Homo sapiens: one gene and its partners. The protein of the gene in region 1 purifies or fractionates together with the protein of each later gene. This does not show direct contact. Each region holds a gene or a part of one and is shown on either strand. Other genes may lie near its edges.

Region 1 (3,903 bases):
ATGAGATAAACCATAAAGGTGAATTTGGGGAAATGTTTTTAAACAAACAAGCTACCACCACCCCAAAACTAGTGCCTTTCACGTAACGATTAACTTTGCTTGGTCGGAAACCAGCTCATCCAGAGACGCTGGAAGCCACTTCTCTAACGGGGCCAGTGGCGAATGTCCCAGCGGATAAACACACGTCCTGTGTCCTGGCCGCACACAGACACTCACGGTCCCTCTCACGACACGAGAGGACTTCAGCCAGCACATCTCTCACTTTCTTCTGAAGCGGTTACTTAGCTGGGCTTTAAATGAATCCTACACACTTATGCCAAACATCCCCCAGAAAAGACTCACACTGTGCTGGCTTCTGCGCAGGCGCCGGCCTGGCCTCACCTGGCTTCCGGCCGTCTCCCAACTCGAACCGCTCCCGCGGCGGCCGAGGCGGGCTGCGACTCCAGTGGCTGGCTTTCACTTTGTCGCTGTAGTCCTCTCTCATCGTTCGGTGATGTGCAGACACTGGCGCGCAGGGCAGAGAGGGAGATGGCACTAGCAGCACTGCCTTCCTCAAAAGGCCCCACCCGGCACAGCTGCCTCGTCTCCCACACCCGCACCTGGCAGACACACCCACAGCGTGCACAGGGTGCTGACAGCATCGGGGTCAGAGGCCAGAGGTCTCCCAGGAAGCCCAGGGAGAAAAAGCTCCAACCTGGAGGCCGTGAGCCCGAGGACCCAGGTGGACCTTCTAGACTGATCTTCACTGGTCAAAAAGGAAGGGGCGGGAGAAGATTCTGGAAAGATGGAGTAGGAAGCACTGGGAATCAGTCTCCCCACCGAGACAACACTTGCATCACAGGATCAGGCCTGTGCAACTACTGAGGTGCTCTGGAGTCTACTGAAGGTTTGCAACTTCAGGGGGAATCTTGGAGAGTAAACTGTGATTCATTAATCAACGTCACCGCTTCGCACATTAGTGGCTCCCACCTCACTCCCCGCTGGCAGGCAGCAGCCTGCATGCAGCTCGCCGGACCCAGGTGGGCAGACGGACACACACACCCGAGGTCAGTGTGATGACTGCGTGTCCCACCCCAGAGGCATGAAGAGGCAGCAGCCACGGCCACCCCCAAGCTGAAGGTACTTCCAGGGCATGAGCACCACGTCCCCCGTTGCCCCCTTCATTTCTCTCTATTCCCCCTTTAGGAGGCAGACACTTCAGGACAAGAACATTAAAAACATCTGTATTGACGGGAACGTTAAAAAGTGGCTGCACGTGACCAGGAAAAGGCTCAGGCTCAGAAAAGACCCGTGAAGACCCTGAGTTTCCACAACAGGCCGACCCCACAGACACAGCCCAGCACAACCAAAACAACAAGTGCACACCCTTGAGTGGGGACCAGGAAGAATCACATCATGAGAATCAAATGTCCATTTTTTTGACTAAGAAAAACACAAGAGAAACAAAGAAATAGGACAGTATGTCCCATTCAGAGGGGAAAAAAAGAAGCCAACAGACACGGTTCCTGAAAATCACCTGACGGTAGATGTCCCAAAGACTTTAGGGAACTGTCTTAACCTTCAGTTCCTCAGAGAACGAAAGGAAGATGTGGAGAAAGTCAAGAAAATGACGCGTGAACACGACGGAAATATCAACAGAGACAGAAGATCCAACAAGAAACCAGAGAGAAATTCCAGAGCTAATAAGTACATGCTCACAATAGACACTAAAAAGTAAATATTCACAACAGAAACTCACAGGCAGATGTGAGCAGGCAGAAGAAATAATCGGTGAGCCTGAAGACAATAAAATCACATCGTCTGAGGAAAAGAAAGCAGAAGAGACTGAAGAAAAGGGAGCAGTGCTGAGCGGCCTCGGGGACCCCAACAGATCTGTGGGAGCCCAGGAGGGAGGAGAGGAGCAGAGAGGGTATCTGAAGAATTCCTCAAAACCCCCACATTGGATGAAAACCGTAAATATAAACATTAGAGAGGCTCAGTGAACTCCAGGTAGAATGAAGTCAAGAGGCCCACAGGAAAACCCATTATTAAACAGTTGAAAGCCTAAGGCAAAGAGAATCTTCAAAGCATCCAAGGGATCCTCAATCAGGTCATCAGATTAAAGCATCCAAGGGATCCTCTATAAGATCATCAGATTTCTCATCAGAAACTTTGGAGGCCAGAAGACAATGGGCTGAAATAGTCCAAGTGAAAAGGAAAAACTGTCAGCTAGGCATGAGGGTTCCTTGAGCCCAGGAATTCAAGACCAGCCTGGGCAATACAGGGACACCTTGTTTCTACTGAAAAATGAGCCAGGTGTGGTGGCACACGCTACGCCTGTAGGTCCCAGCTACGCGGGAGGCTGAGGTGGGAAGATCACTTGTGCCCAGGAGTTCGAGGTTGCAGTGAGCTATGATCGCTCCACTGCACTCCAGCCTGGGCAACAGAAGAAGACTCTGTCTCAAAACAACAACAACAAAATTGTCAACCAAGAACCACGTATCCAGCAAACTTTCCTTCAAAGATGAGGGAGAAATGAGGATATTCTCAGATAAACAAAAGCAGAGGGAGTTCATTACTACTAGACCTAGACCTGCCTTGAAGAATAAGCTCCAGGGAGTTGTGTGGGGTGTAAGGAAAGGACGCGAGACAGAAACCGGAAGCTGGGTGAAGAAATAAAGATCTCCATTAAGGTGAGGACGTGGGTGACTATAAAAGCTCGTACTGGCCGGCCGCGGTGGCTCACGCCTGTAATCGCAGCACTTTGGGAGGCCGAGGTGGGTGGATCACGAGGCCAAGAGATCAAGAGACTATTCTGGCTAACACGGTGAAACCCTGTCTCTACTAAAAATATAAAAAAATAGCTGAACATGGTGGCGGGTGCCTGTAATCCCTGCTACTCCGGAGGCTGAGGCAGGAGGATCACTTGAACCCGGGAGGCAGAGGGTGCAGTGAGCCGAGATCGCGCCACCGCACTCCAGCCTGGGGGACAAGAGCAAAACTCTGCCTCCAAAAAAAAAAAAAAGGCAGGGGCGAAAAGCAAGCACCGGAACCAAGCGCCCGCCTGTGACAGCAAGTGCCCAGCACCAGGGGGCAGCAGACACGCGTCCCGCCGAGCACAGCTGCCCACCGCGCCGCCTACCTTCCCTGCGGGCCTCCCGCTCCTTGCGCCGCTCCTCTGCCCGCCGCTCGCGCTCCTTCTGCTCCCGCTGCTCCTTCTGCTGCTCCCGCATCTTGCGCTCCCGCTCCCGCTTCCTTTCTAACTGCTCCAAGCGGTCCCTGAAGAGGCACACGCCATCATTCCCCCTAAACAGAAGCTTGCTTATCGCGTTTTTGTCCACATTTGTAAACTGGCTTTCTACGTAATTCAATCCGTGAAGTTTTTTTTTCATTTTTTTATTTTATTTTCTTTGAGACGGAGTCTTCATCTGTCCCCCAGGCTGGAGTGCGGTGGCGCGATCTCGGCTCACTGCAACCTCCGCCTCCCGGGTTCGAGCGATTCTCCTGCCTCAGCCTCCCGAGTAGCTGGGATTACAGGCGTGCGCCCTGTACTCCCAGCTAATTTTTGTATTTTTAGTAGAGACGAGGGTTTCACCATGTTAGCCAGGATGGTCTCAATCTCCTGACCTCGTGATCCGCCTGCCTCCGCTTTTCAAAGTGCTGGGTTTACAGGCCCGAGCCACCGTGCCCAGCTGCCATTTCCAATTCTAATTAATAAATGATCCATTTCTTTCCATTCGATCGGTGTTTGCTTCATGGATTTTGGGCTCTGTGGTTAGATGCATTCACACGTATCATTGCTGTATCTTCCTGCTGTATTGGCCTGTTTCTGGCTGTGAAGTCCTTGCTCCTTCTTGTTTCTAGCTTTTTTTTGAGACAGGGTCTTGGTTTGTCACCCAGGCTGGAGTGCAGTGGCGCAATCTC
Region 2 (3,824 bases), on another chromosome or scaffold:
TTCAGCAAAGAGATAGAAACTGTAAGAATGAATCAAAGGGAAATGCTAGAAATTAAAAAAAAAACAGTAAGAAAAACAATGGGCTGAACAGTAGACTTGACATAGCCAAGGAAAGACTCAGTGAGCTTGAAGATCAAGGTTATTGATCAGTCAATAAAAATTAAAAAGAGACGAATGAAAATACTGAAGAGCACTCAAGAACTGTGGGGCAATAACAAACAGTATAACACACTTGTAATTAGAATCCCAGAAAGAGAAAAAAAAAAGAACAAGATAGAATTATTTGAAGAAATAATGGCTGAGAAACTTTCCAAAATTAGTGACAGGCAACAAACCACAGATATAATAAAGTTTAGAGAACACAAAGCAGGACAAAAATGAAAAAATTTTAAAAGCCACAATTAGGCATATCATATTCAAGCTGCTGAAAACCAAAGACAAAAAGAAAATCTTCAAAGTAGTCAGAGGAAAAAAGACACATTAACTATGGAGGAACAAGGATAAGAATTAAAGCAGCCTCAAACTAACGCGGGAACAGACAGCCAAACACCACATGTTCTCATTCATGGGTGGGAGAGTCGAACAATGGGAACATATCGACGCAGGGAGGGGAGCATCACACACTGGAGTCTGTTGGGGGATGGGGGACTGGGGGAGGGATAGCATTGGGAGAGGTGCCTGAAGTGGGTGACGGGTTGATGGGTGCAGCGGGCCACCATGACACATATATACCTATGTGGCAGACCTGCACATTCTGTACATGTATCCCAGAACTTAAGGTATTAAAAAAAAAAAAAAGGATTACAGCAGCCTTCTCATCAGAAATCACGTAAGCCAGGCAATGGTGGAGTACTATGTTGAAAGAGGAAAAACAACTGTCAACCCACAAAAGTGTCCTTTCAAAAGTGAAGGAAAATGAAAACTTTCTCAGACAACCAAAAACAGAGAATTTACTGCCAGCAGATCTGCCCTCAAAAGATAGGTTAAAGGGGATTCTTTAAGCAGAAAGACTGTGATCAAGGTAGGAAACCTGGATTACCATAAAGAAATGAAAAGCATTGGAAAAGGAATAAATGAAGGTAGAATATAATCTTTTCTTTTTAAACATTTGAAAAGCCAATTTCCCAAACACCAGCTAAGGGCCAATCGTGCACGTTGGCCTTCTAAAGACAGCAGCCTCAGGTCTGCTATGTTAACTCTTTTCTGCACAACACAGTATATTAAAAAAAAATCCTACAACATCATACTTGATGGTGAGAGATGGAATGCTTTCCAAGATTGGAACAAGTTAAGGATGTCCTCTCTCACCACTACAACTCTGAAAAAGAAGAAAAAAGCCAGGCCAGGTGCAGTGGCTGACGCCTGTAATTCCAACACTTTGGGAAGCCAAAGCAGGAGGATCACTTGAGGCAGGAGTTCAAGACCAGCCCGGGGAACATAGCAAGACCTTATCTCTGCACAAAAAATATTTAAAAATAGGTGGGCATAGTGGCATGTGCCCATAGCCCCATCTACTCAAGACGCTGAGGCAGGAGGATCACTTGAGCCCAGGAGTTCAAGGCTGCAGTGAGCTATGATGGGGCCACTGCACTCTAGCCTAGGTGACAGAGCAAGACCCTGTCTCTTAAAAAGCAAAAAAAGCCAGACGTGGTGGCTCATGCCTGTAATCTCAGCACTTTGGGAAGCCAAAGTGGGAAGACTGCTTAAGACCAAGAGTTTGAGACTAGCCTGGCCAATACAGTGAGACCCTGTTTCTATAAAAAAATTTTTTTAAAAAGTAACTTAAGCATACCCTGAGAGAAAGATTTTAAAAAGCCAGAGTACTCTATTACCTGATTTCTAGGCTTATTATAAAGCTATAATAATCAAGACTGTGTGTTAATGGAGAAATGATAGATATATAGATCAATGCAACAGAGAGCCCAGAAATAGATCCACAGAAGGATAGTCAACTGATTTTTGACACATATGCAAAGGCAATTCAATGGAGAAAGGGTAGTCTTTTCAACAAGTGGTGCTGGGACAACTAGACATCCATACGTGGAATCACATTCATGGCAGGAGAATATAAAATGGTAGAACCACTTTGGAACATAGTTTGGTAATTTCTGTCAAAGAAAAATCCACTAATCCCATTCCTACGTATTTACCCCAATAAACTGCAAACTTATGTCCACACAGAGATCTGTACACTAATGTTTACCACAGCTCTATTGAAAACCACCAAAAAACTGGTAACAACTAAGTCGTCCTTCGACAGGTGAATGAACAAACTGTGGTACATCCATACAATGGAATAGTATTCAGTAATGAAAAGGAACAGGCTATTCATTCACATAATATGGATGAATCCACTAAAAGCAAGACCAAAAAAAGGCTACATATTGCATGATTCCACTCATGTGATATTCTGGAAAAGGCAGAATTATAGTTAAAAATTCAGAAGTACACTATCGTGAGGCATTTCTAGGGGGAAAAACTGGCTAGATTTTTTTTGAACAGGAATAGCTCTGATCAGGTCAACTCGGATAGGAGTCTATGGAATTTTGCATCACTATATATCATCTCTTTAAAAAATGTATTTAACTTTTAAAATAAGAAAATATATTCACATTGCTTAAAATTCAAAACACATACGTAAAAGTTTATGTAGTGAAAAGTCTCCCTCTCACCCTCTACCTGCTTGGTCATGCGTGTTCCAAAACTATCAGTGTCTTCAATATTCTTGATTGACCCTTAGGATATTACCAATCTTTTGCTACTACAAGCAATACTCCAATTAATATGCAAATATTTGTTGAATAAATTCCTGGAAGTGTTTGTGGGGTCTAATGATGTGTGTGTTTATAAATTTTGATTGCTCTTTCAAGTCACTGACTTTTAAAATGTCAGAGATTTTTAATTTTTATCCTAGGAGGAAAGAAGAAAAGCTAACATTCTACCACCAGGCAATTTTCTGGGGGAATGTACATCTCTAAGACATACAAAATGAGCCTTGTATAGTTTCCCACACATACTTCCTGGGGTCCAGTTGCATTTTCATGTAATATATTTCAGGCCACAAGCTGTTGTGAAGCCTATTTCAGTTATGTGGAAAGTGTTACTTCTGAGATCTTCACAAGCAAAGGTCAAAGGCTGATGCCCCAAATTGGTAATTCCTGGCCACTCACTTCACAGTACAATGCTGGATTTTTCACTGCAACCACAGGAAGATTTTTAAATCTTAACCAATTAAAACACATTTACAGAGAATCCCTTGTCCTTATTACCAATGCTCAAATACGGATTTCCTCTCTTAGGTACAAATTATAAATCATATAAAGGTTCCAAGGAAAGACTGCAAATGTTTCTTTCATCTCTTAAGTGGTGGTGGTTCCCAAATAACGGTCTTTTGGCTTGACCACAAAATCTAGTAGAGTCTAATACACTAGGGTTTTCGTGATAATGCTTGAATGGAAGGTTGAGGAAATCTAGAGACTCCTTTGATAATAGCCACACAAGATCAGAAAGCAGTTAAGCCACTCACAAGAATATCTATGTCCAAAACCACACTGTCTGCCTTTGGCTTCTTCCCAGAAAAACCATCACTCCATTCCACACTTGGTGGAAGAGGTGTTACCAATGGCACAATCACATTATTTAGTCTCTAGAATACACTACATTCAGAAATGGGTGTTTAACAAGATTTATCAAAGCTTAACAGCTTACATTCATTGCTAATTATTATGAATTATTGCAGTAATGGCCCCCAATTTTTTCACATCTCCCTGTATCCACACCTTTGAATGGTCACCACCCACAATGACTCTGGGCTTGGCCACAGA
Region 3 (3,824 bases), on another chromosome or scaffold:
CAACACAGCTAATGTTGGGATTACAGGCATAAGCCACTACACTCAGCCCCACATTATCTTTTTTTGTTGTTTTTCTGAGATGGAGTCTCATTTATGATAAATACAGAGATTATTTTCCCAGCTATATTTATACCAAGTAAAGGATGATATACATCTAAGTAAACATCATAAGCATCTGGCTACCTAGGACAGGTTGTTTACCAACTTTTCCTTAAGGGATGGTCACTCACTAGTGGGCTGCTTTTTTTTTTTAAAACAGAGCCTCGCTCTTCTGCCCAGGCTGGAGGGCCATGGCATGATCTCAGCTCACTGCAACCTCCGCTTCTGAGGTTCAAGCAATTCTTGTGCCTCAGCCCCCCGAGTAGCTGGGATTAAAGGCATAAGCCACCACGCCAGGCTAATTTTTGTATTTTTAGTAGAGACAGGATTTCGCCACGTTGGCCAGGCTGGTCTCAAACTCCTGGCCTTGAGTGATCTGTCTGCCTCGGCCTCTCAAAGTGCTGGGATTACACATGTGAGTCACTGCAGTTGAGGGCTGCTTTTTAAATGCAGACTTCAGTGAAAGCCGGGCACGGTAGCATATGCCTGTAGTCTCAGCAACTCAGGAGGACTGCTTGAGACTAGGAGTTTGAGGCTTCAGTGTGTTATGACTGTGCCAGTGAATAGCCACTGTATTCTAGCCCGGGCAACATAATGAGACCAGGGAAAGGGAAGAGGAAGGGAAGGAGGAAGGGAAGGGGGAAGGAGGAAGGGAGGGGAAGAAAAGGGAAAAAGAAAGAAGAAAGAAAAAAGAAAAGGAAAAAGGAAAGCAAAGGAAAAAGTGCTAAGGATTTAACAGCACAGCTAATGGTGATATGTCCAGAGATTAATGAAACCATGTCACAAGTCTTATAAACTTAGGCTGATTAATATAAATCCACCTTTTACACACACACACACACACACACACACACACACACTCAAAACAGGTTTATTCTTTGGACAATGAGGAACACTGAATCTCCTACCTGAGATTCTTGAATCTGTGTCAGTTTTTTCTTTTCTTGCTCCTCTTCTTGCTTTTTCTTCTTTTCTTTCTTTTCTTTCTTTTTGGCTGTTTTTAGTTTTTTCTTGATTTCAAATCTGGTTAAAAGATATTTGGTTTTTAAGTAGCAATGAAATGTATATAAAAACTGATTTCTATTAGATAGGAGAAAGGAACTAAGGGAAAGGAGCTAATAGATATTTTGGCTTTCCTGCAAGAAACTCTGGTGTACCTTTTAAGTACATTAAAAATATTTAATATGTTAATTACAACAAAATATAAAATATTTGATAGCATTAAGTTGGAATATGTTTAAAATGAGAGACTACGGGCCAGGCACAGGGGCTCACACCTGTAATCCCAGCATTTTGGGAGGCCGAGGCGGGGGGATCAAGAGATCGAGACCATCCTGGCCAACATGGTGAAACCCCGTCTCTACTAAAAATACAAAAATTAGCTGGGCATGGTGGCGCACACTTGTAGTCCCAGCTACTTGGGAGGCTGAGGCAGGAGAATCGCTTTAATCCGGGAGGGAGGTTGCAATGAGCCAAGATCGCGCCACTGCACTCCAGCCTAGCGACAGAGCAAGAATCCGTTTCAAAAAAAAAAAAAGAGAGAGAAAGAGAACATATATAGGGTATTGCTGTACTCATCTGCGCCACTCTAGCCTGGGCGACAGAGTGAGATTCCATCTCAAAAAATAAACAAACAAACAAACAGGCCCGGTGCAGTGGCTCACACCTGTAATCCCAGCACTTTGGGAAACCAAGGTGGACGGATCACGAGGTCAGGAGATTGAGACCATCCTGGCCAAAATGGTGAAACCCCATCTCCACTAAAAATACAAAAATTAGCTGGGCATGGTGGCATGTGCCTGTAATCCCAGCTACTCGGGAGGCTGAGGCAGAAGAATTGCTTGAACCCAGGAGTCGGAGGTTGCAGTGAGCCAAGATCACGCCACTGCACTCCAGCCTGGCGACAGAGTGAGACTCCGTCTTGAAAACAAACAACAAACAAACAACAACAAAAAACACACAATGAAAGACCATTTCACACCCACCAGGATAGCTATTATCACAAAAAGGGAGGCCAGGCACGGTGGCTCACACCTGTAATTCCAGTACTTTGGGAGGCCAAGGCAGGAGGATCACTTGAGTCCAGGAGTTGGAGACTAGCCTGGACAACATGGTGAGACCCTGTCTCTACAAAAATTTTAAAAATTGGCTGGACATGGTGGTACATGCTTGTAGTCCCAGCTACTTGGCAGGCTGAGGTGGGAGAACTGCTTGAGCCCAGGAGATTGAGGCTGCAGCCAGCCATGATCATACCACTGAACTCTAGCTAGCCTGGGCGACAGAGTGAGACCCTGTCTCAACAACAACAAAAAAAGGAAAAGACAAGTGTTAAAGTGTTAGTGAAGAGGTGGAGAAACTAGTACACTTATTGCCGATGGGAAATCTAAAATGATGCAGCTGCAGTTTCTCAAAAAGTTAGAAAGAGTTACCGTACCAGCCAGCAATTCTACTTTCCAGTATACACTCAAAAGAACTGAAAATAGGTACTCAAATTGTTGTATATAAACGTTCACAGCAGCACCAGTCACAATAGCAAAAAGGAGGAAACACCACAAATATAAATCAACAGATGGACAGATAAACAAAATGTGGTATATACATAAAATGGAATATTACTCAGACATAAAAAGGAGTGAAGTACTAATACATGCTAAATGGATAAACCTCAAAAACATACTAAGTGAAAGAAGTCAGTCACAAAAGACTACATATTATGATTTCATTTATATAAAATATCCAGGTCGGCCATGGTGGCTAATGCCTGTAATCTAAACACTTTGGGAGGCCAAGGCAGGAGGACTGCTTGAGGCTAGGAGTTCAAGAATAGCCTGGACAACATAGCGAGACCTCTTCTTTAATAAAAGTTTAAAAAATTGGCCAGGTGGTGGCACACGCCTATAGTCCCAGCTACTTGGGAGGCTGAGGTGGGAGGATTGCTTGAACACAGGAGGTCGAGGCTTCAATGAGCTATAATCATGCCACAGCACTCCAGCCTGGGTGACAGAACGAGACCCTGTCTTGATAACAACAACAATAATAATAAACATATCCAGAATAGGCAAATCTAGAGAGACAGAAAGGAGATTAGTGGTTGCCTAGGGCTGGGAGGCTTATGGGGAAATACAGGAGTGACAAAATGCTCTAGAATTAATTGTGGTGATGATTGCACAACTCTGTGGACATATAAAAACCAATGAATTATACACTTTAAGTGGGTTATTTTAAACAAAGTTATTTTTTAGAGTTAGTGATAGTTTACATTTACATAATGTTCTTATGTATATAATCTCTCTTGAGGTTTACAACAACCCCCAGGAGGAAGCTGAGGCAGGAAGAGAAAGTGATTTAACTCCGATCACCCCTCCAGCGAGTCTGACTTGACCCCTAGACCTTCTAACTGCAATGTCAGTGCCCTTTCTACAACCAGGCTACCTTTTATGCTTCCTGCCCCCATGAATAATCTAACAACTGAAAATGACATCTCACTACTGGTGCTGCTGGCTAGAGAACAGGATGCTAATGGTGCTTACATAAAAAAGACTACAAAGATTAAATGCAATCCATATAAAGAGCTTTTAAAGTAAAAAAGATTCAGGAAATTCCAGAGTTTCCATATTGCACTGCCCTGAAGCTAAACAAACGAACTACTAAAATATCAATTTTCTATGATGGCTCTGAACCTCTGTCTTAATAATCAGCACACTAAACCATTCTTATAGTCACTA
Region 4 (3,824 bases), on another chromosome or scaffold:
ATACCTAATTAAGAAATTGTTTAGACTTGTCTTAAAGGTTTGATCAATTTTCATACACTTCCTATTATTTTATCAGTGTAAATGGTTGTCTTATGCTTCAGCAAACATTTCTCAATTAACTCTGTATATTAAGGAGGGAAGAAAAGGAAGAATATTGGGCCATCTACATACAAGAAATTTTAGTTTTCCAAAGAGTTTTTCTTTTCTGTCATTTATTTACCATCTGTTTGGAACCTGATTATTTTATTAAAATGATATGATTAAAAAGTAAGCATCATCCTTTTTCCATTTTAGAAGGAATGGAAAATAAACCCTTCCAAAGAGCTGACTCTCAAAGAAAGAAACAAAATTTTTTAGAGTAAGGATAAACCCTTGAAAATGTTATTGTATATCTAAAATCTCTCTAGACTTTCTAGTGATTGTACTCAAAGAGCAACAGTCAAAAACCTGGACTTGGGGTCAGACAGACCTTGTACCAGATTTGGACTTTCCAACTAAAGGGCCTGGGGCACGTGATTAAACATAAGTTTATTCATCTATTAAATTGTGATAATACTGTAATAATGGCTGCTTCATGGGGCTATTTTAGGGATGAATGAATATATGTAAAACACCTAGCACAGAAGAAGCACTTAAAAATATTTATTGTTTGAATGATTAGTAGCTCCTTCAGATAACTGTTTTGGGGGAAAAGAAGATGAATTAATTTGGGGCATGTTGAGTTCCTGTTAAGTGATTTAAATCCATTGTAAAGCCAGGCTTCTTTAAAGTCTTTTATACTTCCATTCCTGTATCATATTGCCTCTTGGCATTTCAAGATGAGTAATCTACAATGTCTAACCAGTTCTCTAGAAAAATTGAAGTATTTTTTAATATAGCAGAATATATTATACTTTGGATTTATGTATAGTTTGATCAACCTTTCTGAAATAAAATGAAACTTGATAAAAATGTATAGAGAATTCAAAAATTTCAATAATTATACTTGGTTTTATAGAAATTACTAATAAAATTATTAGCATTTTTTAAAGAAATAATAATGTAGGTAATGCAATACAAAACAAAGCCCCAATACATTAGCTCATATAATTTAAGAATTTCCTTACTAAGTTTTGGTCAGAAACTGCTGACCTAAGTTAAGGTTAATAAATAGATGAATAAAACAACTGTGATTACTATTACAATATTTTTAAAATTTTATTTCCATTTTACGTTTCGTAGTATGTTGACTATAGTGATTAAGCTTCATGAGCAGATACTCTTCATGAACTGAGTATTTCCAGAATGTCTTTACTGCTACTTTAAATTCACTGCTTAGGTACAGAAAAACCAGATTTTAAATAAGATTACTGACAATACATGAGGGACCTTTGTCTTGAAAACTCAGAAATTTTAGAGTGAATAGAAAGACACTTCCCCTTTACATAATTGAAAACAAGGTTTGAGAAAATGACTCATGCCCTCATTTTCAATTTATTTCATCCCAGAATGTTTGCCAACACAAGGCATATGCTAAGCCTGGCTGATGGACGTGGTGATTTTGAATTAGCCTGCTGGCATATTCACAGATATTTCATTTTTCAGAAACATATTGTTCTAAGTAATGCATTAAAAAGTTTTTTTCGCACGTTAAAGATATCCACCAAAAGAATTGTTTTTAATGAATGATTTCAAGCCAAGATCCACGAAGATCCTGGAGACCTGCAGGACATGTTTTCCTGATGAGATATTATATGGCTGGAATCTCTCTGTTGTTTGTCAACTGAGGTGCCTCAACAAGATGAAGAACATCAGGGCAGAACCTAGAGTAAAGGAAGAAGGCTAGAAATGCAATAAAAAATATGTTCATATTCCTTTTATTGATTAGTTAAGAAGAATGACTTTGAAGTGCTCAAATTGCCCTCTACACACACAATTTTGTTACAAGAGTCATGTCTATTTGTACCATTTAAGCATTGGGACACAGCTTACTTAATCCTGGGATTGTAACAGATGTACTTATTTTCACAAACTTTGAAATTCAGAAAAATAATGATTTCATTCCTTTGGCTTTATTTCAGGGAGGGATCTCACTTTTTAGATGTGACTATGACATCCTAGTCATGTTCTAGTCCATTCCATTCTGAAATGACTGAACCGAATCCTACTCTGAACACGCTGAAAGGCAATATCGAATGTTGACTGTAGTGAAGATAAGAATTTTGCATATTCTGACTGGAATTATTGTGAGTGCCTGAACAAGCATTCATGTGCATGTCTATGTATGTGTCAGGATGAGATCAGTCTTTTAAGTAAAACAACAAAGGAAAGGTTATAAATAAATGTTAACAAATACCTTGAAAGTAAATTGCTCATTGAAGACAGGATTAAGGGTTTTTCGGTGGACTTTTGTCTCAAATTTCTTCTTCTTATCAGGTAGCAGAAACACTTTCACGTAAGGATCAGATGTGCCCCCCATGTCCAAGGCGGGCAGTTCGGCAGCCTGAATGATCCCTACCAGCAGCTGAAATAAATGACAGAATACAGCATACATAAATATCAGTGGACATTTTGGAAAAGATCGATTTGTTCACAATGCTGCATATTGGGATTTCTCCCTCTTCCTATTTATTTTTAATAAAACTCTGATTCTCTTATGAATCTGAACACAGAAGGCAAATGAACTGAGCTATGTAGACTTCAGAAACCCAATTATGACTGATGCAGGCTCTGGGAAGCCTGGTTTTAAGCACAAAAGAGGCTTTTAAAAGGTTGCTGATTGCAGTTAAATATGGAGTTCATTTTTGCAAAAGAGTTGTAATCAAATAACTTTCCAGTTGCTAAAAGCTCTTGTGCATTGTTTTTCTTTCCAGAGCATGATTTGTAAGTGAAAATGCATTGTTAAGCAATCACAAGTTTGTAATTACAAAGTGGGAAACTTTTATTCTTTATCAAAGCCTCAGGCTAGCTGAGTAGAAATTTCTTAGAAATTGGGTAGCATTTTGAGATAAAAAATAAGATCTTCTAGTTTCTATTATATTTGACCTTCACTGGTGTGCAGACTACATTTATTTTAACTTACAGTAGAATGATTATTATCTATGAGATTCTGTGTTTAAATATAGGACACGGAGTAAAAGAAATGTAATTTCAGCTTCATAGAAAGCAAGGGAGATTAGAGGTGAGGTTTTTTAATGGTGAGTAACTGTGTTTTTTATTTTTTCCAAACACCACAGAACTATTACATTTCTTTAAGTCTGTTTTCTTACTGATGCATTCTTAAGCCTCATTATGAATATTAAGGTATTATGGTATGGTTAATATTTTTGCGAAGAAAAAAAGAGGTGTGAGTAGACTATCATAGATACTCTGCCATTAGAGATTTTGTGTCAACAGACTGATTTAGATCCATATAGGTAACAAAGCAGACTCTTACTGTTATTCAAGGTATATGCTATTTTGTAAATGCAGTAACACCATAGGTTTTTACATCTCAGCCTGAAAAATCTGAGTTCATGCCTTTTTAGCTAGTAGAGTAAAAAAGCAATTCCCCCTCTTAAAAAAAATGCATAACCATTTTAATTGTGACCCACCGTGTACTTAAGTGCATTTTGGCTAGGTGGCTCAACTTTTAACATGGCCCAATAACCTGAATGATTATGTTGTTTCTATTTTAATGCTTCAATATCTTTTTTTTTTTTTGTGGAATCATGATACAACAGTGGCAATAAGAGTGCTAGATTGTAGGTAAACAAAACACAGACAGATGGTCAAAAAACAGCTAAAATAGGCATCGGATTATAAAGACATGATTAGTAAAGGAAACAGTCTGTCTCTTTGTTTGC

What was found. The genes of interacting proteins can lie anywhere in the genome.
Region 2: the proteins of CDK11B (region 1) and JADE3 purify together in Homo sapiens (affinity purification with mass spectrometry, with the first as the bait; one large-scale study listed by BioGRID). This does not show direct contact.
Region 3: the proteins of CDK11B (region 1) and RTF1 fractionate together in Homo sapiens (co-fractionation; one large-scale study listed by BioGRID). This does not show direct contact.
Region 4: the proteins of CDK11B (region 1) and SYT1 purify together in Homo sapiens (co-immunoprecipitation; one large-scale study listed by IntAct). This does not show direct contact.

The regions. Positions count from the first base shown.
Region 1 is NC_000001.11:1,642,005-1,645,907, forward strand, and holds part of CDK11B (cyclin-dependent kinase 11B), read right to left. Parts: intron 3,286-3,903; coding exon of another isoform or gene 3,259-3,285; coding exon 3,122-3,258; intron 505-3,121; coding exon 382-504; coding exon of another isoform or gene 343-381; intron 1-342. UniProt on the Homo sapiens protein: Plays multiple roles in cell cycle progression, cytokinesis and apoptosis. Involved in pre-mRNA splicing in a kinase activity-dependent manner. Isoform 7 may act as a negative regulator of normal cell cycle progression.
Region 2 is NC_000023.11:46,918,895-46,922,718, reverse strand, and holds part of JADE3 (protein Jade-3), read right to left. Parts: intron 1-3,824. UniProt on the Homo sapiens protein: Scaffold subunit of some HBO1 complexes, which have a histone H4 acetyltransferase activity.
Region 3 is NC_000015.10:41,462,069-41,465,892, reverse strand, and holds part of RTF1 (RNA polymerase-associated protein RTF1 homolog), read right to left. Parts: intron 1,123-3,824; coding exon 1,008-1,122; intron 1-1,007. UniProt on the Homo sapiens protein: Component of the PAF1 complex (PAF1C) which has multiple functions during transcription by RNA polymerase II and is implicated in regulation of development and maintenance of embryonic stem cell pluripotency.
Region 4 is NC_000012.12:79,294,748-79,298,571, reverse strand, and holds part of SYT1 (synaptotagmin-1), read right to left. Parts: intron 2,504-3,824; coding exon 2,336-2,503; intron 1-2,335. UniProt on the Homo sapiens protein: Calcium sensor that participates in triggering neurotransmitter release at the synapse. May have a regulatory role in the membrane interactions during trafficking of synaptic vesicles at the active zone of the synapse.